Linked DNA regions of Homo sapiens: region 1 is linked to region 2. Evidence: fine-mapped expression QTL. Tissue or cell type: testis. Region 2 holds a variant in brackets; the other region holds the start of a gene. All regions are shown on one strand. Distances are from middle to middle.

The links.
Region 1: ABCA10 starts here. The variant in region 2 is fine-mapped to the expression of ABCA10 in testis (GTEx, PIP above 0.99).

What each region holds. Positions count from the first base shown.
Region 1 is chr17:69,220,239-69,237,428 of GRCh38, forward strand. It overlaps ABCA10 (ATP binding cassette subfamily A member 10), which reads right to left and starts at 8,586. Exons shown (of 39, transcript NM_001377321.1): 1 at 8,343-8,586; 2 at 6,907-7,047; 3 at 5,087-5,291; 4 at 2,295-2,459; 5 at 1,554-1,657. The coding sequence starts at 5,120. It overlaps PRO1804 (a long non-coding RNA gene), which reads right to left and starts at 14,774. Exons shown (of 1, transcript NR_130736.1): 1 at 12,737-14,774. RefSeq lists a silencer at 12,506-12,706.
Region 2 is chr17:69,179,383-69,196,572 of GRCh38, forward strand. It overlaps ABCA10 (ATP binding cassette subfamily A member 10), which reads right to left. Exons shown (of 39, transcript NM_001377321.1): 12 at 15,003-15,113; 13 at 14,432-14,607; 14 at 14,111-14,230; 15 at 13,728-13,866; 16 at 13,181-13,271; 17 at 11,794-11,933; 18 at 10,976-11,095; 19 at 8,299-8,497; 20 at 6,095-6,261; 21 at 3,293-3,426; 22 at 2,771-2,908. Among named protein-coding and RNA genes, the nearest start is that of ABCA10, 41 kb to the right of the region's middle. RefSeq lists a silencer at 292-492. The variant C/G (reference allele first, on the strand shown) is at 8,153.

The DNA.
Region 1 (17,190 bases), 41 kb after region 2:
GGAGGGGGGGTGGTTGAGGATGGAGAAGAAAACTGTGAGCAGAGTAAACAGTATATGAAAAGGAAAGAAGGTGTATAGTGCGTTGGAGCACAGAAAAGAGGTTCCTGCCACAAAAACAAATAAATAGACTGTAGATAAGGCTGAAGAAATAAACCACTCCCATAGTTTAGGCAAGATATGATAAAGATGTGCCCTTGTGCAGGTGGCAGAACTGAAGTACATAGATTTGAGCTTAGAAATAAGAGGCCAGGTAAAAGATTGGATGTGATGAGTGAGACAGAGAAAATTTTCTCTGATAATCCCCAGTTCCTTTTACTCAGCTAGGTGGTTTTAGCATTCACTGAGATAGGGAAAATTTTATAAGACTCAGTCACATTTACAGAAAAACATCCATGTTCATTTTTGCGCATACTAAGTTTGAATTGCTTGAGACATCAAAGTAGAGGTATCCAGCACACAGTCAGATACATGGAGCTAGAGCAGACGTCTAGCTCTTTTAGTCCCTAGCTCCTTTAGAGGTCAGCAAACTTTAGTTCCCAGACCAAATCTGACCCACCACCTGTTTTTGTATATAACATTTTATTGAACACAGGCACACTCATTTGTTTGTGTTATCTACAGCGGCTTTCATACTACAACAGCAGAGGTGAACAGTTACAACACATTTGGCCCCCAGAGCCTAAAATATTTACTGTGTGGTCCTTTACAGAAAAATGTTGCTAGTCTACAAGTTAGAGTTCTTGGAGTCATCAGCATATAAATTATAATGAGAAGTACGGGAATAAATGAGACCATCTAGAGAAAACATATGGGATAGAAAGAGATGCCTGAGATAGAACTTTGTGGAACTACAGATAGAAAGATGTAGGAGTGTAAGGGGAGATAAGTTGGCAAGAAGACTGAGAGGGAAAGGCTAGAAATGGAGAAGGGAAATCAGGTGAATCTATGTTATTTAGTTGAAATATCAAGTAAGGTGAGGAATAAAGAAGCTGTTAATTGACATGGAAGTTGTTATTTACCTTAGAAAAAGCCCTTTTGATGGTGTGGTAGGGATAGATAATATTGAGTTGAGTTGAGTCAAAGGAGGACAACCCTTTCAAGAAACTTAGCCATTAATAGAAGGAAGTTAGGGTAGTTGTGTGAAGAGGAAAGTGGATAAAGGAAGGTCTTGACCATAAGTGAAGAAATTAATTTTAAATCCTGAAGAGAAGAATCTAGCAGAAAGGCAGAGATTGAAAAGAGGAGACAAAAACAAAAGTCCATAGTTGAACTTTGCTGATGAAGTTGGGAGGGATGGGATCCAGACCATGAACTGAGGAAAGACATTAGGGATGAAGAAAGAGAATGTGTGTAGGGGGTCATAGGTCTGTAGTTTTACAGGGTTTATGTTAGAAGTTGGGAGATATTCCCATGTGACAGCTTTTGTTTTCTCTGAGGATGACAGGCAAAGTATCACCTCCTAAGAGTGTAAGAGTAAGGTAGGGGATGAGGCAGATATTTAAAAAGAGGGAAGAATACAGATTTAAAATATAGCTTTGAAGTTAGGCACTTACTTCTATAATTGCAGCATTAATTGCAGCTTGAAAAGCTACAAACCCTTTTAGCCAGTACTTTGCCAAGTAACAAAAAATTTCACCATGCATGGCCCAACAGTGTTCTTTAAGGAAGAAGAAAAACATGTCCATAGTTATATAATGGAGTCAACTCCTGGAATTAAAACTTTAACTTTGGCTCAAAAATCAAAATATCTAAATGTTAGCTCAAAGCCTATGATTATATGATATAGAGGATTTTTAAAGTACTCTACAGAATTGGAGAAAAAAAGAACATATGATGGCAGGGGCAGTGGCTCATGCCTGTAATCCCACCACTTTGGGAGGCCGAGGCGGGTGGATCATTTGAGGTCAGGAGTTCGAGACCAGCCTGACCAACATGGTGAAACCCCATCTCTACTAAAAATACAAAAAAATTAGCCTGTAGTCCCAGCTACTTTGGAGGCTTAGGCAGGAGAATCACTGGATCTCGGGAGGCAGCGGTTCCAGTGAGCCAAGATCGCGCCACTGCACTCCAGCCAGGGTGACAGAGGGAGACTCCATCTCAAAAAAAAAAAAAAGGACATATGAGTAGTTGCCAAAATAATGAGACTCATCCTAAGTTAAAGACTGATGATTAAGTTCAGAGGGAAATGTATATTAATTCTTTACTTGGTTGTATTAATATTCCTATCAGTCATTCCAAACAGGGGATTCCATGAAGTATCAAAAAAAAATTATAATCAGTTTTTTTATAGTTACCTGTGTATTCAGAGTGCTCCTTTATAACTGGGATTCTATATCCCCAATTAAACTTCAGGCGATATGAGAAAGTATCACTAAATATAACTCCCACCATTTCATGGTATTTTTTTGGAAGTTCTATATCCATGGTCTCTTCATCTGGTGTCCCAATGACTGTTCTTCCTACCATGTATGAAAAACATAAATAAATAATCATGTAAACTTATTACTAGAGGACACAAAAACAAAATACAGTTGCTTGTTTTATATAAAATTAGTGGTATTATATATTATTTCTGGATAGCTGCCTCTTAGTAAAAGGCTGAGTGAAACTATTGTTTTAAGTTCAATGCAAATACATGAAAAGACACAAAGGACACATTGTCTTTTAAAAATCTGCAGCATATTGCTTTTAGTGTGATCTCATTTTGGTAAAGAAAACTGAATTTATGTGCCTATGTAAGCATAGAAACATACTCTATATATGACCATGTGCATATTTGCCTTGAAGGATATACACAATTTGAATGAGGGGTAGGGGAGGAGAGGGGGTAGGGGAGGAGAGGAAGTAGTGGTGAAGATGAAAGGAAAAGCTCTCATATTTTTGCTTCATACAAGTTTGTACTATTCAACTTTTTTTAAAGTAGATATTACTTTAGTGACTAAAATAATTTAAGAATTAAAAGGAAAAATATTTAAAGTAAGCAATACAAATACTCAGAATTTGGTGTTTTCTCTTTTTCTGCCAAGATTATAAACTGATATCACATGAAAATAGTACACTAGAGGTAAATTGTATACAAAAAATCAGAGTACAAAAATAAAAAATATAGTCTACCTACAGATTCTCTGAGGTCAAGAACACTCTCTAAGAATTAAGTGTATAGTAATCAGTGCATAAATGAATGAGTTTACAATCTGCAGGAGTAATCCACCCACTAAGTGTTTAATAGATCTATTACTAACAGAAGCTTTGAAAATCACTGGTCCAATTAGTGCCTCCTTTTTCACGTTTATGTATTATGTTCTAAAAATTTTATTAACTTTGTATCTCACTCAGGGTGAAATCTACATTAAGATGAAAAAGCTGTTTATTTTATGCTGTAGCCATACCTTTCAAAACTCCTCATCCTTCCCAATATAGAGTCAGGCGGTGAAACTTTTATGAGGACAGTGCTAACATCACTGATTTTCTCTAGGGGTATAAAAAATACTGTCAAGGCCAAACCATGAATATTTATGCTAAAAAGCAAGAGTTAGATAAATGTAGAATAAGACAGTGAGAGAGGAGCTGTGGTTGGAACAGGCGAGCATGGTAGCTGGAATGAGATATTTTATATAAGAAAGAGACAGAGTCCAGTGGTCCGTGAGACTAAGACAGAAAGTGGCTATTAGCTTACACTGTGCATACAGGAAGAATAGTCCCTGAGGCTTCAGTAAATGCTTCATGAGTTCAGAAAAAATGAGGTAAATGACTACACAAAGGAAGTGAATAGAGACAGATCAGGGCAGAATCAACACTGTGGTCAGGCAGAACATGTAAACAATGCAAGTAAGGGAGGCCCACCAAAGTCAAAGCTCCAGAAACTGCAATGAAGAATTACAAAACAGGGTAAAGCAGCCAGGGATAACAATACCCATTCGAAAGCTTGGATAGGTTAGGCACAGAATATTAGCAACTCACATAAAATAATTAAAATTCAGAGTTTGGAGGTGTCCCTTGGCATGGCAATCCAGACACCAAAAAACTAAATAAAAGTTTCAGAAAGACAAGAAAAAGCAGTGATTAGAGCTGAGACGTTAACAGATTGGATAAAATGTACAAAAGGATGAAATGGCCAATGTTCAGAACCCTGGCAGAATGAGGGCTAACAACAAGAGAAATTTGATAGTAGGCTAAGATTGCTGAAGAAAAGAACATTTTATCCTGATACTTTCCCTATGCAGGAGCAAAGGCCTCTATGGAGAGTCCAGAGACCACAGCTGACCACCAATAGTTACTCCTAATGGCAGTAGAGATATAAAGGATGGTAGGCAAAGGTCTCACATAGTAAGTAGGACTCTCAGGTGTTCTTATTTCTTTATGAGATGCATACATCAAATTAATGCAGCATCCTACATAACATAGAGACATCTATTTTCTGAGTCCAGATATGCAGAAAAAGTCTTATGGGAAAAAAAAAAAAAAAGCCTCACTACTCTAAGATCAAGGGCTGTGAATTTGTTGACTTTCAGTAGCCAATACCTGATTTGATTTTAAATAATTTTAAATGCCCTGAGCTGTACATTTTAACTATTTTTATACACCAAACAGTAATGCTTTTTCAACACCATTGCTAAGCTTGAGTTTGAATTTCAAACACCTTTGATTTATAATTCCTATATACTGGGAACTATATTTATTTCAATCTCAATTGAAAATAATTAAATCCTTAAAATTTTTTGAAACTCTTTAAATTATAGAATACCAACCCAAATATAAAGTTTTTTAAGTTAAGTTTTGGAAAAGTGAAATTTGTATCATCTAAAATGGGTCCAATCTTTTTTTCCTACTGCAACAATATGTTCTAGTATAAAGGGCAAACGGTATGCATATCATTAAAAACAAACAAACAAACAAAAGTAAATCATTTCATCTGTTGCCCACCTACCCTTAGCTTCACACCAACCCCTGTACTGCATATATAATGAGAATCTTTGCCTCAGTTGAGAATCACTGACACACAGGCTAGGTAAGTAAATTCAACCTGCAAAAAGAACTTGAAAATTAAGTCACATAATACTGAAACATTGGTTATTGGACAACACACCTTTCATAAAGGAAGCCAAGGCCATCTTATTCATTATCCTTTGTGTTATGTTACTGACTGGTGTATATGCCACTACCAGGCCAGAGTCATTAAACTGATCCACGCTTCCCAGGACTTTAGGAGGTTGTTCAGGAAAACGGGTAGCTCTGAAGTGTTCCGAAAAGATGCACAAATATAGCCCTAGAAACAATGTTATTGTCCATTCCTCCAGCACACAAAAGAGAAATGAGCCATGTTATAACGTGGTCCAGACCAGTGAGAAACATCCAAACACATTTTTAAGGCAGAATGTATTGCCATTGAGCATGACTTCATTTCAGTCTGTAATTTTTTTCTGCCCAAATTAATATCTACCTTTTAAAGAAAAAAACACCCTTTCAAAAATACACAACTTTTGAGATAATATCAACAATTGCAATCAATCTTAACCCAGTGATTTAGCACCCCTATTAGTGGGACTGCCATTGATTTTATGCCCTCATATTTGAAGCAACGTAAGTATATGGCATCACACAGAAGATACTCTTGCCAAAAATATTTAACCAGAATTGGATCCTGCTTTTAGATCCAGCTCACTGCTTACAAAAAATATAGATGATAAAGGGATGACTTAAATGACAGCATGGAGAGGCAATCAGATAAAAAGAGAACATGGAATATTCAACAGGATAACTAGTTTTGTCTCATTGGTTCCTGAACAAATCAACCTTAAAAGACATTTTGGGGGAAATTTGGAAAATTGAATTTGGCCATGGAACTAGATGATATGGAATTATTTTTAATTTTGTGTAGTGGGATAGTGGTAATGTAGGGAACCAAGTTCTTAATTTTTTGAGATACTAAAATATTTAGCCATTACATATATTTTAGGGAAGAAGAGGAGACAGAGAGATGAAGCAAAGATGGCAAGATGTTAACAGCTGTCAAATCTGGATGGTGGATGTATAGGTGTTCATTGTACCAATATTTTCACATTTCTGGATTGACATACTTTTTTTAAATTCTAGTGAGTAATAAATATAGATGTATCCTTCTTCAATATACGAAGCAAAATATTTGATCGAACTGCTTCGGAAGCTATTGCAGAAATTTAAAAGGATGATATAAATCCTGTTAGCTCCCACTGAAATGGTACTGACTATTTCTGAACAGACTGCAATCTCTACATGGTCAAGGCAGATCCAGTTATATCTCATAGTAACACAAAGCAATGTCTTAATATTCATGTCAGCATACAAGAAACTCAACAGAATGCAAAGGTATTGACAATCTGTGATCTTATTCCATGAAACCATTCTATGTTTACAAAAAGCACGGCTTTGAAGAGATTCCAAAAAAGTTTGCAGATTTTTACTCATAGATATTTTCCCAGCCTTACCAAATAACATGACATTAATCGAAATGTCCCCAAATAGTATCAGGGTTTGCCCACGTAAAAATCTATTTTATTTTGCCTAGCTTATCTTTCCCCTGGCTGTCCCTGCCCCCAACACAGAAGTTAGCTAAGAGTAAATCAGAATGACTCTGAGATTTGAATGCATTAATTATGTGGAAAATGGCTGGTTCTATTCTGCAAAAGATTATTTTTCAGGAGCTGTCAGATGAGCTTTTTAGTTAATTTCACATTTGACACAAATATTATCCTATTTTGCAAAATATATATCGTTTTGCAGTATTTAGAATCTCAAATCAACTAGCCAGTATGATAATTAAAAATCAGAATTTATAAACAAGAAAAGTAATAAAAATGGCATAATACTATATGGTGGATTTTCATTTATTAATTATGGATATATATATATATATATAGTGAATCATACCAATAAACTCTCTTTTTATTCTCCATTTTTTAAGAAAATTCTTGTACAGAAGAGCCTGAATTTGTTGACGCACGCTTATCTCTTTTTTAACCATTTTGTCCTGTTCATTAACAGGGTAAAGTAAATATTGCAGAGCAATAGCTAGGGGAAAAAAGAAAAAAAAAAAGTTCAGTTACAGAAAGCCTTTGAACATTTTGAAAGCATAATTTTCAGATGTGCCAACTAAATGCCTTATATGACACTGTAGCAACATATTCAATCAGGATTTTAAAAAAGAATATAAAGTATTAGTAATTATAAAATGTCTTCTCAGTTGTTATTTCTCTCCAGGCTTTTATGGCTATGAGGGAGATAAAGGAGATAGTATATAAGACCTTTCTCCTTTTGTCTCAGAAGTCACTTTTTTTCCATGAAATCTTAACATTACATCCACCTAAAGTAAATCCCTCAATAAGATCTTAGTAATTTTTAGAATCCAAAAAACACTTTCTCTTTACTTGTTAAGAAAAAGAAGTTTAACAGGAAGAAACCACTTTGCAGTTCCTTGTCAGTCAGCAATTTGACCACAAGCTGTCTTATTTTGAATTGCACATCTGGGCACATGTATTTGATATCTTGTTAACCACTGGGCAAAGCAAAGTCGAAAACATTACGGCCATTCTTAGAATCCCAAAAAGCTAATTCCTCTTTTTTAAATCTCCATTTATGAAGTAAATATGTAAGATACATACAGATTAAAACCAAAAATATTGGCTAATATGACTAGAGTAATTGATTTGTAATAATGATCCTTATTCTTTGTTTTCAATTTGAAAATCCAGAGCTGATCATTTGGTGTCACAACTATGACTACTGAAGTCCATTTGAATAAATGTTGATATTATATACAAATTACAATGTTCAGAGAGAACTTGCTATATTTCCCCTTTTTCATAAAATAAAAGGCAAAGCCAGCAAAACCCAATATAATCTCTAAATTCTAACTTAAGAAAGTAGAAACATTAAAACACCAATCTTCACTTTATGGATACAGAGGTCTACTTAAACAGCTCCATAAGCAAACCACAAAAACATTTTAAAAGAACAAAAGAACACAGAAAAAAGGAACTTGCCCTAATGCTCACACATTCTAAAGAAGTAAAACCATACAAATTCTCAAAAGGATATTCAAAGCAGTGTCAGAGAGAGAATTTATTGTCTGATAATATTTATATACACCTCTGAATCTAGCCATCTTTCATTTATCACACTAAAATGTTACATAAGTTTTTAAAATAAAATAACTCACTAGTACTATAACATAAAGCATAAAATAATTTAGAGCATCTGAATAATATAATTTTAAAAATTTCAATCAATATGTTTGGCTTTGGCTATATACTTTATATCTTTAAAACCTTATGCAAAGTGAAAATGTAAAACAAATTTTAACTTACAGTTAAGAAAATAAGAGAGAAGTATTTGAAGCACTTGGATCCACTGGTCTCTTTTTGTCCAAGAAAACAATGAAGAATCCTTCAAGGACTCCTCTACAAATGGTTGCCTCTTTTAAAACTGTTTTGATTCAGCTTGGCTTCTGAAAAGCCATGGTCTGTGTGTAGAACATGCCAACAAATTCTGTTGGTTTTTTCCCTATGTTTTTCTCCTTGTCCAGTTACTCTTCAGAGAGTGTAATGAATTGTTGGCTGAGCGCATCATTGGTATTTGTTTATTGCTCTTTTTGGCATACACACAAAAAAAGAGATCAAATTCAAAAAGAAAAACCCACATATTTACAATTGCATGGATAACTACATATTTACAATTGCATGACTTTTAATAATTAAAAATTTGACAGCCAAGCTAAAAAAGGAGCAAATTAAAGATAAAGTTGAACAGAGAGAGAGAAAATGAGGATTGCTCATCTCAGAAATCTGAATCATTCCAATGAGAAAGTTTCATCTGAAAGTTAACTGCATTTCAGTTAAATGGTTCCTTGTATTCACTAATTCCTATGTACTAGAAAGTGTTCTAAGGGTTTAAATGAATTCTCCCATTTGATACTCAAAGCAAACCTACAAAGTTGGTACTCTACTCACATCCATTAAACAAATTTGAAAGGTGGGGCTAACAGGTGAAGTTATTTGCAGATGTTTAAATAAGTGTGAAGCCAACAGATGAGTCCAGAATAGTATCTGGACTCCAAGATCCCTCACTCTTAACTACCACTATGAAAATGGTGCTAATCAAGACAATGATATCTGATACCCATTTAAAAAGTGTAGTGGTATAGACTAGATGGCATAACTTTAATGATTTTGTTACTTTTTTTTCAGCTACAACTAAATTGGATATTCTCAGAATGGCAAATAATGCCTCTTTATCAACCCTGAAAATCTTTTTATGTGATTTTAACTATAATAATACACTTCTTGGTATGCATACAGAAGCTAATGCCCATTCATGAAAGTGACAGAGACAGAAAGGGTAAAGGACTCAGAGACTCTTCAAATGATTACCATTTTCATTAGGAATATGGAAATAAATGGTTCCTTTAATTGTAAATGTCACTAACAACAAAGGAAGCATACTTTAATTGCTTTCCTTTGTTGTTAGTGACATTTCTCTTCCTATTCAGGCAAAATCATTACTAGAAGTAAAAGTTCATGAAATAGAAAACATGAAACTTAACCTGGTTCCGATCCCAGACATTAATGGTAATATTCACTTAAATGGGTGGGGAAAACAATTAAAATCATACTATAATACAGACATACACCCTTCTTAATCACCAAATTTTTAAAATATTTTTTATTTCCATAATTGCTGTGATTTGAATGTCTCCTCTAAAATTCATGTTAAAATTTAATTACCAATGAAACAGCATTGAGAAGTGTAGCCTTTAGAAGTGGTGATTAGGTCATGAGGGCTCCACCCTCATAAATGGATTAACACTATTATCTTGGGAATGGGCTCCTGATAAAAGGATGAGTTAGGCCCAATTCTCTCTCTCTCTGTCTCATGCACATGCTTCCACCTTTCACCTTTCCACTGTGGGATGACCCTCACCAGATATCAGTGCCATGCTCTTGGACTTCTCGGCTTCCAGAACTGTGAGAAATAAGTTTCTTTTCTTTATAAATTACCCAGTCTGCTGGGTACAACTAAATCTGTGGTGTTCTGTTATAGCAATAAAAAACAAGCTAAGACAATAATTTTAGGGATTTCAATCTCCAATACGGTACAGTTGGGAGTCTGAGACCTGCATTGCAGACTTGTCACTCATTGTCTGTGTCCCTTGGAGAGGTCATATAAAATCCTCAGGTCTCTGTTACACATTTATAATAGGATTTGGACCCTTTTCATTCTTAGCCTTTACATATTTATAATTATACAGTTCTGCTACAGAGTCAGAATGTTGAAATACTCCAGATTTAGGCTTATGCACATCCACGTTACATAATACCAACTAGCACCTCCTCATCAAACTCTTCCTTACTCTTGAGTCCTTGACCCCTGAAAGCACGATGGCTTTCAGCAGGTAAATGTACTATATTAATGAACAATCAGAGGCAATTTGGCAGAAGTTTTCCTCCACATACCTCTATTTCATTCTAATTTCCCAGAGGAAACTCAGCCAATTTTTTCTAAACTCAACACCACTGCAGAATCCTTCGATCAAATTCTATTACCTAATCTAAAAATCTAGCTCTCTTGGTTATCTCTTTTTATTTTATTGTTAATTTCTATTACAATCTCTTCTCTCCTTCCATCTTTCTTTACATATGACTGGCAATTACATATGAGAAAATATTGTCACTGCCAGCTTTCTTAAGCTACCTTATCTTATAAAATATCTTATAAACTAGCTCATCTTCTTACATTCCCTGCCCAAATTTCCATTGTATTAGTTTCCTAGGGCTGCCATAACAAAGTACCACAAACTGGGTACCTTAGAAATTGATTTGCTCAAAGTGTCAGAGTCCGGAAGTCCAAAAATCATTGTCCTATCTGAAAAGCCATGCTCTCTCTCCCAGCTTCTGGTGATTGCCAGCAACCCTTGTCATTCCTTGACTTGCAGATACGTAACTCTAATATCTGTGTTGTCATTACGTGGCATTCTCTCTTCTATGTGCCTGTGTCTTCAAATGGCATTCTCCTGTGTATTTGTCTCTTTCATTCTACTAATTTTGAGTTAGTTTGCTCCTGTTATTCTAGTTTCTTGAGTTGCCATGTTAGGTTATTTGAGATCTTTCTACTTTTTTGATGTAGGCAAGTATTGCTATAAACTTCCCTCTTAAAACTGCTTTTGCTGTATCCCTTTGGTTCTAGTATATCATGTTCCCCCTTTTTGACTCAAGAATGTTCTAAATATTTTCCTTTTTAATTGCTCCATTGACCCATTAGTGGCTCATGAGGATGTTGTTTAATGTCCGTGTATTTGTACCATTTCCAATGTTCCTCCTGTTATTGATTTCTAGTTTTATTCCATTGTGGTCAGAAAAGCTACTTGATGTAATTTTGATTCTTTTAAACTTGATGAGACTTGTTCTGTGGCCTAACATATGACCTTTCCTGGAGAATATTCCATGTGCTGTTGAGAAGAATGTGTATTCTGCAGCTGTTGGACAGAATGTTTTATAAATGTCTGTTATATCCATCTGGTCTAATATGTGGTTTAATTATAATGTTTCTTTGGGATTTTCTGTCTGGATGATCTGTCTATTCCAGTTCCTTACAATTATTTATTGCAGTATATTTGTCCTTTTAGATCTATTTATATTTGCTTTATATATTTCGGTACTCTTATGTTGAGTACATATGTATTTATAATTATTATATCCTGTTGCTGTACTGGCCTCTTTATCATTATATAATGGCTTTATCTCATTTTAAAGTTTTGGTTATTTTATCAGATATAAGTATAGCTACTCCTACTCTTTTTTTTGTTTCTATGTGCATAAAATATCTTTTTCCATCTCTTCATTTTCAATCTATGTGTCTCTTTACAAGTGTAGTGAGTCTTTTGTAGGCAGCAGATAGTTGGGTCTTGTTTTTTATTCAATCAGCCACTTTATGTCTTTTGATTGAAGAATGTATTTCATTTATATTCAAGTTAATTATTGATAGATGAGGGCTTACTGCTGCCATTTTGATACCTGTTTTCTAGTTGTTTTGTGGACCCTTTCTTCTCTTACAATCTTCCTTTGTGTGTAAATGATTTTCTCTAGTAGTGTTTTGATTTCTTGCTTTGTATTTTTAATATATCTATTATAGGTTTTTGCTTTGTGGTTACCGTAAGGCTGACAAAAAAACATCTAACAAGTTATTTTAAAATAACTTAACTTTGATAGCAAAGGAAAAATAAAAAAACTGTACACTTAATTCCATTCTCCTCCCACATTTTGAATTTTTGATGTCACAATTTTTAAATTTTACATTTTATATTGCCTATCTCTTAGCAAATAATTTATTATTTTTAATAGTTTTGACTTTTATTCTTCATACTAACGATATAAGTGGTTTATGCTCCACAATTACAGTATTAGAATAACAATCATGTTAGCATTCTTCTCTTTAGATTAGAACTCCCTTCAGCATTTCTTATAGGACAGGTCTGATAGTAATGAATTCCCCTCAGCTTTTGTGTGTCTAGTAAAGTCTTTATCTCTCCTTCATTTCTGAAGGACAGCTTTGCTGGATACAGTATTCATGGTTGGCAGTTTTATTTTCCTTCAGTACTCTGAATACATCATGTTCCACTCCATCCTGGCCTGTAAGGTTTCTGCTGGAAAAGTCTCTTGTCAGGTGTATTGGAGTTTCCTTATATGCTATTTGCTTCTTTTATTTCTCTATTTTCAGGGTCCTCTATTTGTCTTTGACCTTCCAAAGTTTGATTATAATATATCTTGGGGTATTCTTATTTGGGTTGAATCTGATTGATTAGCTGTGATCTTCCAGTTCCTGTATATTTATATCTTTCTCCAGGTTTGGAAAGTCCTATTATTATTTCTTTGAATAACCTTCACACTGCTTTGTCTTTCTCAACTCTCTCTTTAACTCCAACAACTGGAATATTTTCTCTTTTAATGTTGTTCCATCAATTCCATAAGCCTTCTTCACTGTCTTTTCATTCTTTTTTTTACCTCCTCTGATTATTTCCAAACAGCCTGTCTTTGAGTTCCCTAATGTTTTTATTCTATTTGATCAGTTCTGCTCTTGATGGTCTCTATTTCATTTTTCATTATGCTCCCTGTATTTTTCAACTCCGGCATGTTTGTGGTTTTTTTAATTATTATTTCAATCTTCATTAAATTATCTGATAAATTTCTGAATTGTTTTTCTGTATATTCTTGAAGTTCATTGATCTTCCTTAAAACAGCTATTTTACATTTTTTGTCTGAAAGATCACAATCCCCATCACTTTAGGGCCAGTCCCTGGTGCCTCATTTTGTCCAGTTGGTAAGGTCATATTTTCCTAAATGTTCTTGATGCTTGTGGATGTGTGACAATGTCTGCACATTGACGGATTAGGCATTTATTCTAGTTTCCCCAATCTGGCTTTGTTTATATCCATTCTTCTTCAGGAGATCTTCCACAGACTCTAAGGAGACTGACTGTTGTCTTCCCTGAGCCCAAGACCAGTACAGCTGTCTCAGCATTAGAGCATTAAAGGGCATGCTAAGCCCAGGTTTGCTATGAGTCTTGGGAGAGCTCTGAGATTTATGCAGCTTTCTAGCCCAGATAGACCTGGGGAAGACCAAAGAAGGGTACCCAGGTTGTATGAAAAATCTGGCCAGAAACCTAAACCCAGAAGACTGTTCTGGTAGCTAAGATGGATGTCCATCTCCTACAGTCCCTGGACAGGTGAGGTAGTTCATTGATTGTAGCAGGTGAGGCCAGGGCTGAGACTGGGGACCCTTGGATCTCCTGCAGAAGGCAGCTGGCAAGCCTATCTTATTGGCTCAGATGAGTGTGCATCTCCCAGCAAGTCTCTGCACAGATGGGCTAGTTCCCTGACTGCAGAGGGGTCAGAACTGAGGCTGGCTTCCCTCAGGATCTATTATGGGACAGAGGCTGGAGAGCACAACATGGAAGTTCAGACTCCCAGGATGCAAGACATGGGCGAGTCTCACTCTAGGTCCTTGTGTGAGCAGTTCTGAGCTGGGACTTTAGCAGAGAAGGGCTGAAGTCAAGTCACAGGGCAACTTTCAGATTCATTGTCAGCAGTCAGAGGAGGCTCTCTGTTGAGGCACTAGTGTACATGATTCTTTCTGGACTCCTTGGCAGATGGTTTTGGTTGTAGGCTCAAGACCAAATGAGTTTTTAGCCAAGCTCCTTGGGGAATGGAACCATTTCCAGGCTTGAACCCAGAAGCAAAATCAGCAGATCAGCCACTAGGGTGCTAGTCTGCACTCTCAAAACAACCTCTAGGTCTTGGGATCCACTGGGGTTTCACAATCTTATACCTGAATCCTGAGGCTCCTGCACAGAGACTTTGGTCTGTGGTGGTGCAGAATTATTGTTGTTATGGGGGGTGGCGGGTAATGAGTGGGTTACCTTCTATTATGTCATCTTGCTGGCATCACTCTCCCCAGTTAATTTTGATGCTGCTGGTCAATGAATTTTTTGCTCTACAAAATTTGCATAGAGCAATGAAACAATGGCGTTCACAGAGTAAACCTTCAATTAATCTTAATTACCATTTTTAATGCTTAGTTCTTATACGTCAAGTCTCTTCTAACAATTGGAATTGTTTTACTTCTTAAATATTCCAAATAAAATGCCACTTGTTTTTTGCTCATCTTGATGCTTTCTCCCAGTGGGAATTATCAATTAAATTCTTAAGTAATGATTTGTTTAAGGAAAAAAATTAACTAATTTTTCTGAAGGATGTGACTATCACTGGTTTTCCCTTTTGAAGCAAAAGAAATGAGAAGTAAAAAATTAGATTTGAGACTATGGTTACATCTTTATTTAAAAAGACGATAAACAACACCATTTCTGGAGGTTTCCTTTAACCATCTCTGCCCATCTCCCTCCAAGTTATCCCAGTTATCAATAAAATTTACTTTCAATATTAGAGATAACTAGATTCTGTGCCATTTGGAGAGTGCCTGAAACGTTTCCTATTTTGTGGCTCCTCAAAGAGACCAAAGGAGGGATTTATAACCGGTGATTACAATCTAACTTCAGGTTCTTGTCCTGTCCTATCTAAGAACCATTCCTGTCCTTTTCAACCTCTAGCTGTTCTGCCTTCTTTAAGTTTGTTGAATGGCTAGGAGTATCCTCTGGCTCACCCCTCTTACTTTGTTCTAACCTCTTGAACTCTATTACTGCCTCACCATTTCTCAAATGAACTAGCACTTGGGTGACTCTGGCTCAGAAGAGTTCTGCTCTGGCTTCTTAGTTCATTCAGTTCTGGCTTCTTAGACTGCCTTGCTGTCACTGCCACTACTCAAGCGGCCTTACCCCACCCCTTTCTGGGACCAGAAAGGTATCCCTTTGGCACAAGCCTCTGCTGCCATCTGGTGGTCAGAGTTTCACTCTTTTTCTGTCCCATTTCTACTAGGCACCCACCCACACCTTGCATTGTGCTGCTTCCACCTGGCAGGATTAGAAACTGTATCTCTCATGGTTACTGAGATTTAAAAAAAAGAAAACAAAAAAAACAAAAACAAAACCTTAATTTTAAAGTTAGAGATGCAATACTTTTAAATAATCTTGACACTGTCACATTTCAGTGTAAAATTCATTGTCCCCCAGCACAGTTACAACTCTGAATTTAAATTGTACATTGTAAATTCTTTTGAGCTTTAACTAGGCAAAAGAAAACTTCCAGTGGCTTTCTATACAATTCAGTTCTCAACTTTTGTCTCAGTTGTCTGCTGTATAGGTTTTGTATCCTCAGCTGCATGGGAATAACCATGAGGACAAAGATAAGATCCTGGGTTTGCATCTTACAATACCTATATATATATGGCCAAGTCAAATAGTAGTAGGATTTTTTGAAAAGATTCTTTCTTTGAACTTCAAAATGTAAGCAAAGCTATTCAAACTTGTGGATCGGCCACACTGTCTTTATAAACAGTTTATTTTTATCCAGGGCACCTACTTCTAATATTTATAATGCAGGCTTGTAAATCCCCCCTGCCCAAAGTGAGTAGTCCCAAATTGGGAACCCCATTGAGAAATGACTTAAGAATAGCAAATAAGTAACTTCACATGTAAGAAGATAGTTCACATAATATTCAAAGACAACCTAAGATTAACTGAAAACAGCACTGAAAGAAGACATGCATTCAAATATGCACAAAGACCTTGAGAATAAGTCTGCAGACAGAGTCTATGAAACTGATAGAATGTATTTATTACAAGATTAGAATCGAAATTTTCTCCCTACTACCTCAATCTGAGTGAACCAGAATCAAGAATCTACCTCCTTTCAGCACTGAGTATGAAACATTACTTGTGTATGGAAAAACTACAGAAAATAATTAAAACAAACTTTTCCACTGACGCCTTTGGATAAATGAATCAATTTTCAACCCAAATCAATGCATTAAATCAGTATTTTCAAATGGGAGTAATTTTGTCTTCCTCCCCCTACCCCCACCCCAACCCTCCCTCAGGAAATATTTGGCAAAGTGTGGAGACATTTTTGGTCTTGGGAGAGTGTGCTACTGGCATCTGGTGGGAAGAGGCTAAGAATGTTACAAATACCCTGTAACACACAGGACAGTCTCTCACAACGAAAAATTATCCAGCCCAAAATGTCAATAGTACCAAGGTTAAGATACCCTGTATTAAACAATAGCAAATCACTTCAGTGCAAAATAAGTTTCCTAAGGAGAAATCCAGTATATTTTGGATAGTGAAGAGGAAATGGCAAAAGTTATTATTTTCTGGTCAAATATTAATGGCATGGGATTTTGATATACTCCTTCTGTAGCACAATGTCTAACCAAGGCTTCCAATATACTAGCCACTTCTTACTCATTTAATTCATGATGTCATCAATGGAGTCGACAAGTCTTACGTTCTATGAAATGACCAGCTGATCCAGGTCTCTTTTGGAATTTATTGGCAGAGAGAAAGAAAACCCTAAACGTAGCCTTAGGGCAGAGCAAAATGTATACTTTTGTACATTCCAGATCAATGCAAAATGTTTCTGATTGGAATGGAAAATGGGCCATTTGCCAAATCAGTGGCTGTATACCACATGACAGAAGCTCTTCTTAATCAGCTCTGGCAAAGATAGCACATCTGGTTAATCTACTCAACTGAAGCCAACAGTTGGCTGAA
Region 2 (17,190 bases):
AAACTAAACTCAGGTAACTGATGGGTCCCTCTGGGGCCCACTGGCCACATGAGACCCATTCAGCTCTGTGCAGGGTGAAAGGCTACCTGGAAAAGATAAATGTGTGTCATACTGCATCTGAAGCAAAAGCCTCAAGAGTAACTTCTTTCCTCAGCTCCATTTCTATTTACTCCACCTAAGGATTAACATAACATTCCCCAAAACACTGGGGAAAAGAAAGGAGGAAGGAAGAAGCAGAACAGTCAAAAGGAAAGGTACCCTCTATCAGACTGCAGGTGATAAGGAGGTCAACCCATGCTACTTTCTGCATGAGCAGAATTTCTTTATCTTGATATTCTCTACGGAATTCTCTTTAGCAACACCCAGAGGCCCTGGCAAGCTTCCTGCTACCATTGAGGGGAAAACCCCAAATACCATCTTTCTTCCTCCAGAGCTGGCTCATGCTCAGCCAGACCTATTTTCCCTACAGAGAAAGCTTTTTTATTAAATGCAGGGTGAACTACAGTGGTTTGCACTCAGTAAACCCAGCATACATTCAATTCTGAAAAATCCGAAAGCCCTTTAAATCATATTACTTAAAAGTTGCAAGATAATTTTTATGTCTTTACAGTAATGAAGAGTTTGTCCGACAAAGGCTAACTGTAACATGCTTCCACAGTAATGATAATAATGGCTCATGGTTGTGCGATACATTAAACACTTTTAAAAATAATATCTTAGTTGAATGTTACGTCTACTTTATGAGGTAGAAAAAGCAAGTATTAAAATAAAAAAATTTTAAAGACAGGACTATTACAGATTATCTGCTTGCAGTTCCCATCTTGCAGAAGAGAAAGCTGTGCCATAATGGTAACAAACGGTGCACAGCATAACCAGTTATCCAGTCTACCCACTCATTCATCCATTCAACAAATATTTATAGAGCTTCTGCTCCGTGCAATGCATCATCCTTTGTGCTAGAAATAAGTCAAGTATAATTATTACTTTCAAGAAGTTCATATTTGAAAAACAATGACAAACTGAGTCTGAACTCAGTTCCACTGAAAAATAAATTAGGAGGGTCTTTAAGCATTAAAGCATCTGCTGAAAAGTCCTGGAGGATGTTAGGAGATTGATTAAAAAAAAAGGGAAGACAACATCGATTCTATATTAAAAGTAAACAATTAAGGGTAAATAAAGGCATGATTAACTCTGGAAGTACTGGGAAATAGATGAAATTATATTAGATCTCACTCTTGAGAAATTACCAGAACTAAGTTTTGATTATATTTTTCTTATTTTTGCTCTGAACTGGTAGCACATTGCTATTACCATCCAGAGAGACACTGTATTGTTTTATATTAGATAGTTTCTCTACTTACAATTAAATCACCCTATCTCATTCGCAGAAAACTAGAGTTTGCATTATATGGTATTAATTTCTTATTATGCAATTTTCCAATAAAATTTCATTATCTAAAACCACTATGCATATTCTTGCTAACATCCACATGATTTCTATAATTTTTTCCCTTTTTTATCTATCATAATCAAACACACCAGTTAAGAATTTGACAATTTAGAAAGAATAACTAAATTGCATCTGATCAAAAATTGCACTTCACACCCCAAGTTATAAAACATAAAGAAGCCAAACCAAAAAAAAGCACTGCAGAATTTTAAATGACAAAGAACAATAGAACTGTTAAAAAATCATAATTTTAGAATTGGACCATATTTTATCATAAATCCCTTTGGTGGAGATATACATATACATATGTGGGTGTGTATACATACATACACACTCTTTTGCATTTGCATTAATCAGCGTATATGTCTTATATTCATCTAACTCTCCAGGGAAATCTGACACTCTGACATAAAATTAAGGATTTAGGTTTAAGATATCTCTGATATTCTTCATTTCCAACCAAATCCATTCACTGATTTAAGTAAATACGCATTGAGTACCTAGTAAGTTGTATATGGTAAACCAAAGTCAAAATTATGAGTTTTCAACAGTCCTATGATTTTTTTCTCTTTTATTTTAAATTTTGCAGTGTCCTTTTGGATCTTGGCTCTTCTAATGTTCTGTGTTGGACTGTGATTCTTAATCAGACAAGATTTTAAACTAGAGGGGTGAGGCCAGCCATAAAACATAACTCTACAGCATACCAAGTGGTAATAAATGTAATGGAAAAAATAAATCAGGATAAGGGATAGGAAGTGATAGGTTACATCTAATTTACTAAGTAAATAATTATATATTTAAATTTTTCCATAAAACTTTTGAATTTTAAAAATTTAATTAGACTAAACATAACAGTACTTGAAAGATTCTTGATCTTTCAGAATAAGTAATAGCAAACATGTATTTGAATGTTTCCTCTTTCCTTTATAGGAACGTAAGCTCCATATGGGTGAGATTTTTGTCTATTCTGTTCATGCTGTATTCTCAACATCTAGAAGTACCAGAAAATAGTACACTCAGGAAGTAGTTATTGAATAAATTTAAATGTGTATATATATTTATATGTAAATATATATATATATGTATGCCATGCTATGTTCTAGGTACTCAGTAAATTCATTTAATCTTCACAATAATTCTATAAAGTAGGTACTATTACGCTCCCTACTTTGCAGATGAAGACACAAAGGCAAGGAGTAGCTAAGAAACTTGCTGTTAAGTGGCAGAAACAAGATTTGAACTCACATGGTAGGCTCTAGAGCCCTCATCCTTTATCCCTCTGCTGTGTTGCCTCTTATATAAGTCGAATACTCTACTTACACGAGAAAATGAAGTGCTCTCCATTTGAATAAGCTCCGTGAAGTTAAAAATTCCCATAAGGGCATTGCTAACAATTCCCATAAGAACAGGAAAACAATTCAATTTCTTGGTATTACACGCAACAGAAAATCTGTAATCCTTGAAAAAAAGTACACAAATATAAGTTATAAATTCTTATAGTAAATATATTTATTGTATACTTTGTATATTACCAGAGTGGAATTAGAATGAGAAGGAGACTATTAATTTTTCTTTGACACTTCTGCCTTCTTTGAATTGGTACAAGAATGCATTATTTTTGTAATTCAAGTGACTTGTTTTGTAAATGAAATGGATTAACATTTACTAACATGAAAAGATGTCAAATATTTATATTTTATGTGACAAAGAAAGTTTCAAGCCTCCTCTAATATGATGCCAATTTAGAAAACATACTTAAGTTTCCTATAGTTCTAAGTATTAGGACGTGGCAAAAAAAACAAAAAAAAACCAAAAAAAAACAGTGCATAGAAGCAAACATACCTTCTGGTCACCAGACACTATGATGGCTCCATTGTAGGAGGGATCATCTGAGCCATTTCTGTTTCTAAAGTCATCTATTTCCAAAACTATATCCTGACACTTCAGTGAATGCACGAGGTCTTCAATATTTGATCCTAACATAGTGGAAGGAAGGCAACAAGAAAAAAAAAAAAAAAGCAAGAAAATCAAAGTCAAAGCTTAAAATAATAATGATTGCCAATCGTGTTAAGAAAAACCCAGAATAGCTTAGTAAAGAGCCTTGCTCTTTAGGAGTACAATACTATTCATTCTGATGCTACCACATTAAGTTCCATTTACTATCTTCAATGTGACGGACTCCTTTATTCTTTTCAGAAATATATTCATTTATCTTATAATTCTCACCAGGTGAAAAGAGTTTATGAAAATAAGATTGCATTTCTCACAGGAAGAAAATTTGCTAGGAGTGACTTTTATAAACTTTACCAGAACCCTGTAATATTTGTAATTATGAATAATACATACAAAATATACCTCATGACCCAGGCTTGTTCTAGTGATCCTGTCAACCTTAAATGGCACTAACCTTGCCATGATATTTAAAGTACTAGTAACCCATTCAAAACATCTTTATGGAATTAAGTTAACTTGATATTTGCCATTGTGCCCATTATTTTTCTTGACTTGATTTCCATCATAGATGGAAAGGAAGTCAAGTTGGTCACAGGGAGAAGTCAAGCTATGATGCAGCCTCCACATCTGAATCAACCACCCCCGCACCAAGGGAGCTCTGGATTTAAAAGGACCCATCAGGGAGAGAATCCACAGATCCTTTGAAAGAGGCGGCTTGCAGCTGCAGGCTCCATGAGACAGCTGAAAAACTGAGTGCCCTCGGTGTGAAAGGGCAATGTGTGTCCCCAAACACACATCCTCACTGGGGAATCCGAAGGTTGAGATCACGGGAGGATTTTACCTTACCTGGAGCTAAGACGAATTTAGAAAGCCAAGCGAAATATAGGGGTAGAGGAAGCAGTGGGAGGAACCCTGTGGGCACTCTCAGCCCCCAGGGAAGCCATTTTTGACTTTGTCTCAGAGGGGTCCTTGGGGAGGGCTGCCAGTGGAATTGGGGAAAGACCACAGGAAGAAGGAAACTTCCAGCTGAACTTTGTAATAATTTTAACCAAATGCATAGTTTCCTGGACAGAATCTTGGGGAAGGAATGATCAGGGAGTGCAGATTCAAGCACAGAAGCCATGGCAGGGGGAAGGCACATAACCGGAGAGCCCTGCTTGCTTTCTCAAAGGGAGTCTTGTAGCATGGGGTGAGTTCTCAGTCCTGCTCACCAGCTGCCTGGAAACAAACTCAGTTCTGTTGTAGGGGCATTGAGACCACTTTGCGGGCTGTGTGGGAACTGAATGAGGCCTGTCACTGCCGGCTTTCCCCTACTTCCCTAGCGACCTGTACGATGCAGCAGAAGCAGCCATAATCTCCCTGGGAACATAACTCCATCGGCCATGCCCCACAGGAGCTGCTGCAAGCCCTGTCCAAGTACAGTCTAAGCTCAGACGTGCCTAACCCTGCCCTCACCTGCTGGTCTTTCTCCACCCGCCCTGGTAAACATAATCTCTTGGAAGTTCTATGGCCCTGACCCACCACCTGAGAAACCTGAATACTTATCCAGGCGACCCTAGGGCAAGCTTGCATCCTCCCTATACTACCATAGCTGATGCTCTCTTGAAAGTGCCACCTCCAGGCTGGAGGCTGACCAACACTGTTCCAGCACACTAAACAAAACTACAACCAAGGACCCTCACAGAGTCCACTTCACTCCCCTGCTACCTCCACCAGAACAGGTGCTGGTACCCACGGCTGCGAGACCTGAAGATGGATCAAAAAATAATAGATGTTGGCATGGATGTGATGAAAAGGGAACACTTTTACACTGTTGGTGGGAATATAAACTAGTAAAACCACTATGGAAAACAGTGTGGAGATTCCTTAAAGAACTAAAAGTAAGTCTACCGATTGATCCAGCAATTCCACTCCTGGGCATCTACTCAGAGGAAAAGAAGTCATATGAAAAAGATACTTGCACACACATTTATAGCAGCACAGTTCACAATTGTGAAAATATGGAACCAGCCCAAGTGCCCATCCATCAACAAGTGGATTAAAAAAGTTATATATATATGTATATGTGTGTGTGTGTGTGTGTGTGTATATATATACACACACACACATACATATATATAACTTTTTAAATACACACACACACACACACACACACACACACACCTTGGAATACTACTAATCCATAAAACGAAATGAAGTAATGACATTTGTAGCAACCTGGATGGAGTTGGAGACCATCATTCTAAGTGAAGGTAACTCAGGAATGGAAAACCAAACATCATATGTTATCACTTATAAGTGGGAGCTAAGCTATGAAGGTGCAAAGGCATAAGAATGATACAATGGATTTTGAGGACTTGGGAAAGGGTGGGACGGGGTTGAGGGATAAAAGACTACACATTGAGTGTAGTGTACACTGCTCAGGTGATGAGTCCACCAAAATCTCAGAAATCACCATTAAAGAACTTATACATGTAACCAAACACCACCTGTTTTCCACAAACCTATTGAAATAAAGATAATACAAAATAAAAAATATTAAAAAAGAAAATTAACCCATCAGTTTCCTTCATTTGAAAATGGAGCAAGCTGGATAGACACCATTTTTGTTTTCAATTGTCTCTCAGGTATGTGCTTTCTAAAGATCTTTGATAATAAAAACTCACACTAAATTTCAGCCCCATTTCTCACCTGTATTATTAACGATTAACAGGCTGGTAAGAGGCGTCTTCGGGATTTGTTCCAGAGAAAGGAAATACATACTGGGTGAAAACTCCCAACAATGAGTTTCACGAGTTACTTTATACATTATCTTCTCTAGAATGATGGGGATAAAAGCAATTCCAAGTACTAGTAACCTAAGTAAAACAAAATTATAACATGAGTCTGAAGCAATTTTCCTCTGGTTATTTAAGTCACAAAGATGCTATATAAGTGCTAACTATGGAAAGTCCACATGCATATGTGGTGTTTAGTTAGATAAAATGAAACATACAGTGACAGTAATCTGAAAATCAGCACAAAAAAATTACATACTTTGTATCACATTGGAAGATATTCAAGGGTAACAGAGCATCAAGAGAAAAGGTGGAATCCAGGGGCAATCCTCTGCAGGTATGCTGGTTTACCAGGAAAACACAGGAAATGATTTTATGAGATAACAGGGGCCACAAATTGCCTGCTTGGGTACTTTTGATGAGAAAGAAGCCCTATTTTACACTGCAGCCTCAAGCTTGCTATGTGCACAATTGCAAGTAAAATTTTAACTTTCTTCAATTGTTAGTTTACAAATATTTTAATTTTCAGGAAACTAAATGCAATATTTAAAACACTATTTTTATATCCTAGAAGTCATCCCACCAACTCAAATTGCAAGTGAAATGCTTCCAAGCAATCTTTGTTTCTCTAATAAGCCATGAGTCCACTCTGCAATGACTACTTTCCCATCAGACTTCATACTCTACCTCCTTCTCCCTATCAGCCATATATTTCATAGAAAAAAAAAATGGAGTCTATAGGACAGAAACTCCTTCATCTTATCGCCGCCAAAAGAAAAGAAAACACATACACAGATTCAGTCATCCTCTCATTCTTTTATTCTGTTGAAGTAGATAATAGATCTTTGCTCCTAACAAAAAGATCAGTCCTTGTCAACATTGCGATGAATCCAAACTCTCCACCCTCCGTCTATCTCTCATTCATTATAAAATCAACTTTCTTCCCGACTTCACATTGCCTTTTAGCTTCTGCTCTTTCTACTCCGCTCCACAGTCAAGCACCGCAAAAGAGTTGTCTACTTTCAGACCTTCTCTTGCTAAAACCTTTAATAACTTCCCTTTTGCCAAATCCAATGGATGCTTTGTTTCTCAACTGTTATTAACCCTCCATATTTTCTAATCTTGGCTTAAACGTAACAATTTCAGTAAGACCAACACCAGCAAACCTATTTAGAATTGTAATGTACCTCCAACTCCTGTCATCCCTCCCTATCCCCTTTTCTACTCTAGTTTGTATAACCTGGCATATAAGTTATTTAGTTTTATATTCAGTATTTTTCATCTTTTCCACCCAACCAGATGTAAACACCATTAGAGTAGGGATCTGTGCCTTTTGTGTTCACTAATATAACCAAAGCTCCTAGAACAATGCCTAGTATACTATAACAGGCTTCAATAAAGATTTGTGATATAATGGAACAAGTTTAAAGGCCTTATCAATTTTGTTCACTACAGTAGTAAAACTGTGCCCCAAAGAGTTAAAGAAATCAATGACTAGCAGAAATTATTGAGTTTGTAGGGTGTCAGATTGAAAGAAGAAAAAAAAAAGAAACAATTTGCTGAAACACTGAAACTCCCTCAGCTTGTAAGATAATAAAACTGGCTGAAATCAGCTGAAACCAATATGGCCAATTACAGTCGGTCCAGAATCATCCTGCCGACTTCACAGCCTGAATTTCCACCATATATTTCATACCAACTGCGCTTGAATTTGCACAAGGGATACATGAGGAGGCATGAAGAGATATCTGTACATGCCTGAGGACTTTCCAGACCTCTCCTTTTCTTCTACCATGCTAATCCCAGGACCCACCCCCTAAACCTTTGCTAATAAAATTACTGCCTTAAAGTCAGCACAGGGAGACAGATTTGAGCTGGTCTCCTGTCTCCTTGTGAGTCAACTAGCAATAAAAACCTTTTCTTTCCTCAAAAATCCAGTGTCACAGTATTGGCTTCTAGCACATGAGGCAGT[C/G]AGGCCCTTTTCCTCAGTAACAGCAGGATAGGTAAACATACAAAAAAACTGTTAAATGAATGAATAAATTAATATATTTACTTTCTTAATATTTGAATGTTTTTTCATATACTGACCAAATAGATATAAAGTAATCTGATACTCACAAACACAAAAGAGCTCTCCTTTCACGCCTTAACTTTAAGAAGCGAAGTGTTGCCACTGCATAGATTTGTCGTCTCCAGAGAGCTGCACTACTGACAGCCTTTCTTGTTTCAGGAAGAGAACAAAGAACCTGTTCCATTTCAGACTCATCTCCAGTATTTCTTGTCACATGTATTTTCTCTTGTTTCCCAATGTCAAAATCTACAATCATGTAATAAAACATTTTAATAGGCTATGTTATCTGAACTTTCTCTTTAAAAACTTTGAAAATGATGTTAGACTATTTGAAACAGCACTTCCAACAAGTTAAGCTACTGATATCCATAATCAAAATTTACGTTAAAAATCTTTCCTTCAAACATATGTAATGGATTCAGTTCCAATGAGACAGTAAATTAATTTTTGAGGATGATTAAGGCTTCCTAACAAGCATTTATTCTTTCATACCAATAACAGTAGCTCTTCACTAATGGATACTTTTGCAGAGCAAGTTTTATGCAGAAGCACAAAGACAAATTTATGTAGCTGAGTTTCCAACAGGCCTCCTCTGTCATCTGGAATTTCCCCTACAGGATTAGTTCAACACTGATGATTGACATCTCAGTAACGAGTTCAAGACATTGTGCTTTCAAATGATGGAAAGTTCATGGAAAGGCCTCCTGTTTGAGTCCCACATATACCACACATTTACTGTATAATTTTGGCTAATCACACAACTTCAAATATCAGTTTTCTCATGGGCAGCTTGATGTTATTATGGGAATTTAAAACAATATAATTCAAGGACTGAGTACAATGGCTGGTATCTAGTAGCCTCCTAAATTCTTTTTTTTCTTTCCAATTTTTATTTTTGGTGCAGGCTTGCTACATGGGTAAACTGTGTGTCATTTAGGTGCAGGCTTGTTACATGAGTAAATTGCGTGTCATGGGGATTTGGGGGTTTGGTGTACAGACAATTTTGTCATCCAGGTAATCAGCATAATACCCACTAGGTCATTTTTCAATTCTCATCCTCCACACTTAAGTAGGCCCTGGTGTCTGTTGTTCTCTTCTTTGTATTCGTGTGTATTCAATGTTTACTTCTCACTTGTAAGTGAGAACATATGGTATTTGGTTTTCTGTTCCTGTGTTAATTTCTTTAGGATAATGGCTTCCAGCTTACTCCATGTTGCTGCAAAGGACATGATCTCATTCTTTATGGTTGCGTGGTATTACATAGTGTACATGTAACACCTTTTCTTTATCCAGTCCACCACTGATGGGCATCTAGGTTGATTCCATGTCTCTGCTATTGTGCATAGTGCTGCAATGAACGTATCTGTATATGTCTTTATGACAGAATGATTTATATACCTTTGGCTATATACTCAGTAATGGGATTGCTGGGTCAAATGATAGTTCTATTTAAAGTTCTTTGAGAAATCTCTAGACTGCTTTCTGCAGTGGCTGAACTAATTTACATTCCCACCAACAGGGCATAATCATTCCCTTTTCTCCACAACCTCATCAGCATCTGTTATTTTTTTACTTTTTAATAATAGCTATTTTGACTGGTGTGAGATGGTATCTCGTGGTTTTGATCTGCATTTCCCTATTCATTCATGATACAGAGCATTTTTGATATGCTTGTTGATTGCATGTATGTATTCTTTTGAGAAGTATCTGTTCATGTCCTTTGTCCATTTTTTAATGGGGTTGTTTTTGGCTTACTGATTTAAGCTCCTTATAGATTCTGGATATTATACCTTTGTTGGGTGCATAGTTTGCAAATATTTTCTCCCATTCTGTATGTTGTCTGTTTACTCTGTTGATAGTTTCTTTTGCTGTGCAGATGCTCTTTAGTTTAATTAGGTCTCACTTGTCAATTTTTCTTTTTGTTACAATTGCTTTTGGAGTCTTCATCATGAAGTCTTTGCCAGGACCAATGTCCAGAATGGTATTTTGTAGGTTTTCTTCTCAGGTTTTTATAGTCTTAGGTTTTACATTTAAGTATTTAATCCATCTTGAGTTTATTTTTGTATAGGGTGAAAGGTAGGGCTCTAGTTTCAATCTTCTGCCTGTGGCTAGCCAGTTATCCCAGCACCATTTATTGAATAGGGAGTCATTTCCCCATTGTTTGTTTTCACTGGCTTTGTTGAAGATCAGATGACTGTAGGTTTGTGGCTTTATTGCTGGGTTCTCTAACTTGTTCCGTTGGTCTATGTATAGTAGCCTCCTAAATTCTTCTAATTTTTATTACAAAGTAAACTAAGGAAATAACATCTTATTTTATTACTTCTTATTAATACATTAATTAGAATTAGTTTATTAGCTAATTAAGAGCACATTTTTATAAGGAATGGCAAGTAAGAGGCAATAGCAGAATTCATCGCTATAGCAGAGAGCTTTTGATAATAAGGAAGAAGTGGTCATTGCAAAGAGATGTGCCTGTCACTGACATGGGAAGCAGACAGATGTTGGAAAGCAATTTGCCTAGCACCAAGGCTGATTATACTCGATATAAAATGATTATAATACTGGACAATGCTAGTATTTTCTATCTAGTGGACAATGCTATTTTCTATCTAATGCATATTATAGGTAGAAATCCACATAAAAATCTACAAATATGAATTAGAACATCATCTTTTTCTCTTCTCTTTTTTTTCTTAATTTTCTGCTAGACACACATTTTTATACCTGGTTCATCAATTGCTGATTTTCCTTCTAGGTTCAAGAATACTTCATTCAGAGATGTCACTGAAACAGCATAATTCCTTATGCCCTGGTCAGAACACTTATCAAGGTCACTGTAAAGATCTAAAAAGCCAATAGTAATAAGTCAACGCAATTAAAATTATCAATGAGTATATTAAAATACTAATTTCTAAATATTACTCAAAATAGATGTCTACAAATGTTTTCATATTAAAGCAATCACAATAATCCAAGGAAACCTTTTCTGTAAGATATTCTCTTGTCATTCAAATCAGTTTTAATATTTTACATTTCCATTTTGTTTCATAAACTTTAAAATTCTTGTATCATTATTGCTGTGTGTGTTTGTATAAGCATGTATCTGTATGTCTATCTAAAAATTTATTAAGTTATACCTTATCCTTTGTATTTTCTAACTTTTCTATACTAACCATTTTATATATATAATAAAATTATTATAATTTTCAAAGACTCTATTGAACTGCTTACATATATTTTAAAAGATAAAGTCTCATTTCATCTGTATTTCTAACAGAAACTGCTATTTCAGAAAAGAGATATTTCAAAGTTTAATTTTGACAAAGAGTGCAAATCGGGGTTTCTATATTCATGGAAATTTTAGTTGCTATAATACGTCCCTGGTAACATAGATCATCATATTGGAAATAGGAACAGATTACTTATGAATAAATATTTTCATTTGTATAAGCTTTAGAACTCGATTCATAGAACAACAGAAAATGCAGTCAGCACAATCGTGAACACTTACATATATTCTATGTGATTACACAGTAAGTTACCTGGAAATTTGTTCGTTTTTTCCAAAGGCAAACTATATACAAGTTTTTCTTCACTTTCTGTTGTTAACTTGGCATCAGGAATGTGCTGCTTAATAAGGGATGTGATTTTTTCTGTGTCACACATTTCATTCCTGTGTAAACTATTATTTCAAAAGAGCCATAAGTCTCTTGAATTCTTTTCCAACACCACCACTCATGAAAAGATAGTTTTCTATTAAACAGCTTATATGTATTACAGGCATATTCTACTTAACTCTAGTAATTGGTTCCTGCAAATCAGATACTCCACTTCAAATTGCTAATTCAACTTCAAAGTGCTAATTGGTAGCCTATTTTGCATTATTTCAAATGGAAAAATTATAGTACATATCAACACCAATTCCTTTAAATGTAACTAAAGCACAGTGACATTTTAGCATACATACACACATACACAAACACACATACACACATGCAAATACATGTGTATAAAAGTTATTTTATGTGTGTGTATATATACATATATAAAACTATCATTATTGTGCTACATGTGTGATATACATAAAAAACAATCATGATAGGATATAAGATACATGAAACATTGCTTCTGAATAACTGGAAAATTCATAAGGTTTTTAATAAACAGTTGCTTTCTATGCATTAAGTGGTTTCTCTTAATGTCAACAACTTCTATTTGCAGAGCTTGTTTGTGAGTATTTGATGCTTTCTAAAATGTTCCCATGTGATATTCTGCCATTCTATCAATTAGATTTGGAATATAACTACAGAAATTTAGGCCAAATTGTTTTGCTAAAAGTAAACAATGGCTTATTGAGGACATAAAGATAATTTTTTTCTATACAAATATTGGCTTAAAAATGTCGTATAGGCCGGGCGCGGTGGCTCATGCCTGTAATCCCAGCACTTTGGGAGGCCAAGGCAGGCAGATCACGAGGTCAGGAGATCGAGGCCATCCTGGCCAACATGGTGAAACCCCATCTCTACTAAAAATACAAAAAATTAGCTGGGCATGGTGGCGCATGCCTGTAATCCCAGCTATTCGGGAGGCTGAGGCAGGAGAATCGCTTTAACCAGGGAGTTGGAGGTTGCAGCCACTGCACTCCAGCCTGGCAACAGAGCGAGACTGTGTCTTCAAAAAAACAAACAAACAAACAAACAAACAAAAAAGTTGTATTAAGAAGTATACTTTGTTTTTTAATTAGCATGCTTAAAACCAAGAGATAACCAAGAAAGGAAATGTTAATGAGGAAGACATTTTGAGCTGTTTATTGCAAAACAGTTTCTACCAGAAGTTAAGTTGCCTTTCTTATATTTCTAAAGGCTTCTACAAAATGTCACCCTCATATTAATATGCTCATTTAAAAATAACTACACCTAGAATACATACCTTAAATGATATCCAATACCCCACTTTCGCTTCAGAAACAAAGATGATCCTGCACATTTCAACTTCCCATTAGACAGAAATACTTTCCTATCTGAGTAGAAAGGAAGATTCAAAAAATTATGTGAAGAGTAATTCCTTATATGGTATATTCTCTACTTTGGATACTAAAACACTGAATGAAATTTGTAATATCAATACAACTGTAATATCATTAAGCCCCTGGGTGCAGTATCATTTCTAATCCCCATGCCTATTGTGAAACAGGCCTCAGAAATTCACTGCATTCCCCATAGCTAATCCAGTGCCTCAAAACTTTCCAAGGATGGCCTGATTCTTCACCTCTTCCTTTGTCCACATACTTTGCCATGTAACTTTGCAGGGTTACACCCCATGTGACCTGTTGTAGCCAATGGCATGTGGAGGCTTGAAATGGGCTTCTGCAAATAAACTGCAAACAAGATTTTCTTCTTTTGAAAACAGGCTATGAAAAATAACTCTCATGTTAAATCCTTAAATAACTAGTTGGAATAAAGAAGCCAAGAATCACCAGCCAAGATGTCAGCCTCATCCATGAATTGGGTACTGAAGAGGATAAGTCGGTCTACTTTATGCTCCTTCAGGAGGCTCCACACTCGGTGTCTTGAAAAGGGATCCAATCCAGCAGTTGGTTCATCTAGCAGCAAAACCTACAGAGGAGGAAACGTATGAAAGCATCTTCCTCTTCACAGTGAGGATCTTCAGAAAGCACCATGAAAACAAGTATGATTTCTAGACTCAAATACAGTCCTCCACCAGATCCCTAACAAGCTTGCATGGTACTTTATTATAAATTTTCCCTCACATTTGGTAATTACAGTAGAAGTTGGACTTTAATAATAGTTGTATATCCTTCAATCTAAATTAATTGTAAAAATATATTTTTTCTCTCACCTGAGGATCTCCTAAGATGGCAATCCCTAGTGTTAGTTTTCTCTTCTGCCCACCACTTAATTTTTTAGCAATAATGTCTTGAATGCTTTGCATGTCTAATTCCATTATAATTCTTTTTACCTATCAAAGAAAACTCTGTGTTAACAATATCAAATATTTTACTTTAAGGAGTTTTTACTCTCTAAAAATGAAAAGGATTTAGTCTAGAACTTCGTTGATTAAGCTTTACCTATCAAAGAGTAGAGTAATAGCTGAACAAAAAAAATATATAGTCAAAAGTAAATTATTTCCAAAGCCATCAATCTTAATGTGTTCCTGTACCTCTTGTTCCACTTCCTTTGGCTGAATCCCTTTTATTTTAGCAAATACCCTGAGGTTTTCTCTCACAGTGAGGAAGTCAAATTGAAAATTGAACTGTGGACAAAATCCAATATTCTTTCTAATTTCTTCCATGTCAGTTATTTCAGAGAGTTGAGTATTATAAATAGTGGCTGATCCTATAAATAGAAATTTAAAAGGCTTTACTGCCAGAATGTTAATTCTATGCAGAGTGATAATATATGTTAGTATTTAGATTTTGTTCAAAAAACTTGTTTTTATTAAAGAAACTTCACATTTTCCAATTGCATAATTAATACATTGAATAATTCAGATTACTGTTAACGTAAATATCTGTGTCCACAGCAATGCAAAATATACATGGAATGTCAAATAATAGTGGAATAGAGATACAAATGTTTTCATGAATTTATGTGCATATGAAATCAATATTTCCTGCTCTAAATTATTCAACTGTGTAACAAGTCCAATTTAGAGAAACATTTTTTACATAATCAAACCAATTTACAACTTGCTTTTTCAGCCAACTTACTTTATAAAACTGTTTTCTCACCTTCTGTAGAAACAGACAATCCACTAAGAATGTTTAGCAGTGTTGATTTACCAGCTCCATTATGCCCAAGTATTGCAGTGATCTGTCCTTCATATATGTCAAAAAATATGCCTGTTTTAGAATAAAAAGTGGAAATTAGATTTTGGATTATATGCAGATGGAATGGACCTTAAAATTGGAAAAGTAAAATATATCTCAGCATTTCATTTCATTGGTATTTTAATACATCCCCTATAAAATTATACATTTAATTGTATAAGTTATGTATTCCTGAAGACAAAGCTTCAATTTGGAGAAATTGGATCAAGACTGGGAATATAAATTTCTACCCTCTTGCTTCCTTCAAATCCTTTGAATGTCAAAGAATCTATACACTTAATATTAAATAATAAAACAAAGACTACTAGAAATAAAAACAAAACGTAGTTTATTTGCTTCCTAGGCAAAGGAAAGAAGTGTGGCTTAAGAAATTGTCTCCCTGAGGCTTGCAGAGCTGGAAACAGAAGGGCTGGGTATAGAGAAAAGGGGAAGAGTTTATTTCATATTCGGAGGGAGGTAGAACTGATAAAGAAAACATTGGTAAAGTATCTCCTGGTACTGGTCATCATTTTGCTTTATATCACAAAAGTGTGGGCATGATATTTAGAAATATCTGCTGGGATCTAAGACATGTCACAGGCATTTTCACATATATGTGCCTAAGGCTTGACAACTTTTTCTTTAATGTTTGAAAACTTAACTCCACCGGAAAATAAGAATTCAGTTAGCATGCTGGAAATTTTAAAAGATTCTCTGAAGACAGAAAACAGAGGGAATTAGATTGTCAGAGCGTCAAAAATCAGGCAAACCACAGGCCAAAATAGACGATGAAGAGTTCTATGAAAGTAAAACCAGTTTCACTAATACTTCGAGCTTAGTTTGATAAAGTCAGGTCAAAGATTATAAACCGGTATAAACAGTGTATTCCTATTGTTGAAAAAATATTTTATATATAAATGTATATATACAAAAAAGATAATATATTATTGGTAATTATCCCTCATGGCAGAAACATATTTTAATTTTTTTGTTTTCTCTTTATTCTCTAATTTTCCACAATAATGATATTTTCACATCACAGAAATGTTTTTGTGTTTTAATTTGAAGCATTATCAAACAATGAAGTTTTTCTTTTTTTTTTTTTTTTTTAGTATTTATTGATCATTCTTGGGTGTTTCTCAGAGAGGGGGATTTGGCAGGGTCATAGGACAATAGTGGAGGGAAGGTCAGCAGATAAACATGTGAACAAGGGTCTCCGGCTTTCCTAGGCAGAGGACCCTGCGGTCTTCCGCAGTGTTTGTGTCCCTGGGTACTTGAGATTAGGGAGTGGTGATGACTCTTAAGGAGCATGCTGCCTTCAAGCATCTGTTTAACAAAGCACATCTTGCACCGCCCTTAATCCATTTAACCCTGAGTGGACACAGCACATGTTTCAGAGAGCAAGGGGTTGGGGGTAAGGCCATAGATTAACCGCATCCCAAGGCAGAAGAATTTTTCTTAGTACAGAACAAAATGGAGTCTCCCATGTCTACTTCTTTCTACACAGACACAGCAACAATCTGATTTCTCTTTCCTTTCCCCACACTTCCCCCTCTTCCACTGGACAAAACCGCCATCATCATCATGGCCCGTTCTCAATGAGCTGCTGGGTACACCTCCCAGAGCGGGTGGCGGCTGGGCAGAGGGGCCCCCCACCTCCCAGACGGGGCGGCTGCCGGGCGGGGGCTGCCCCCCACCTCCCTCCCGGACTGGGCGGCTGGCCGGGCAGGGGCTGCCCCCCACCTCCTGGAGGGGGCGGCTGCCGGGCGGAGATGCTCCTCACTTCCCAGACGGGGTGGCTGCCGGGCAGAGGGGCTCCTCACTTCTCAGACGGGGCGGCCGGGCAGAGACGCTCCTCATCTCCCAGACAGGGTGGCGGTCGGGCAGAGACACTCCTCAGTTCCCAGACGGGGTCGCGGCCGGGCAGGGGCGCTCCTCACATCCCAGATGATGGGCGGCGGGGCAGAGGCGCTCCCCACATCTCAGACGATGGGCGGCGGGGCAGAGACGCTCCTCACTTCCTAGACGGGATGGTAGCCGGGAAGAGGCGCTCCTCACTTCCCAGACTGGGAGGCCGGGCAGAGGGGCTCCTCACATCCCAGACGATGGG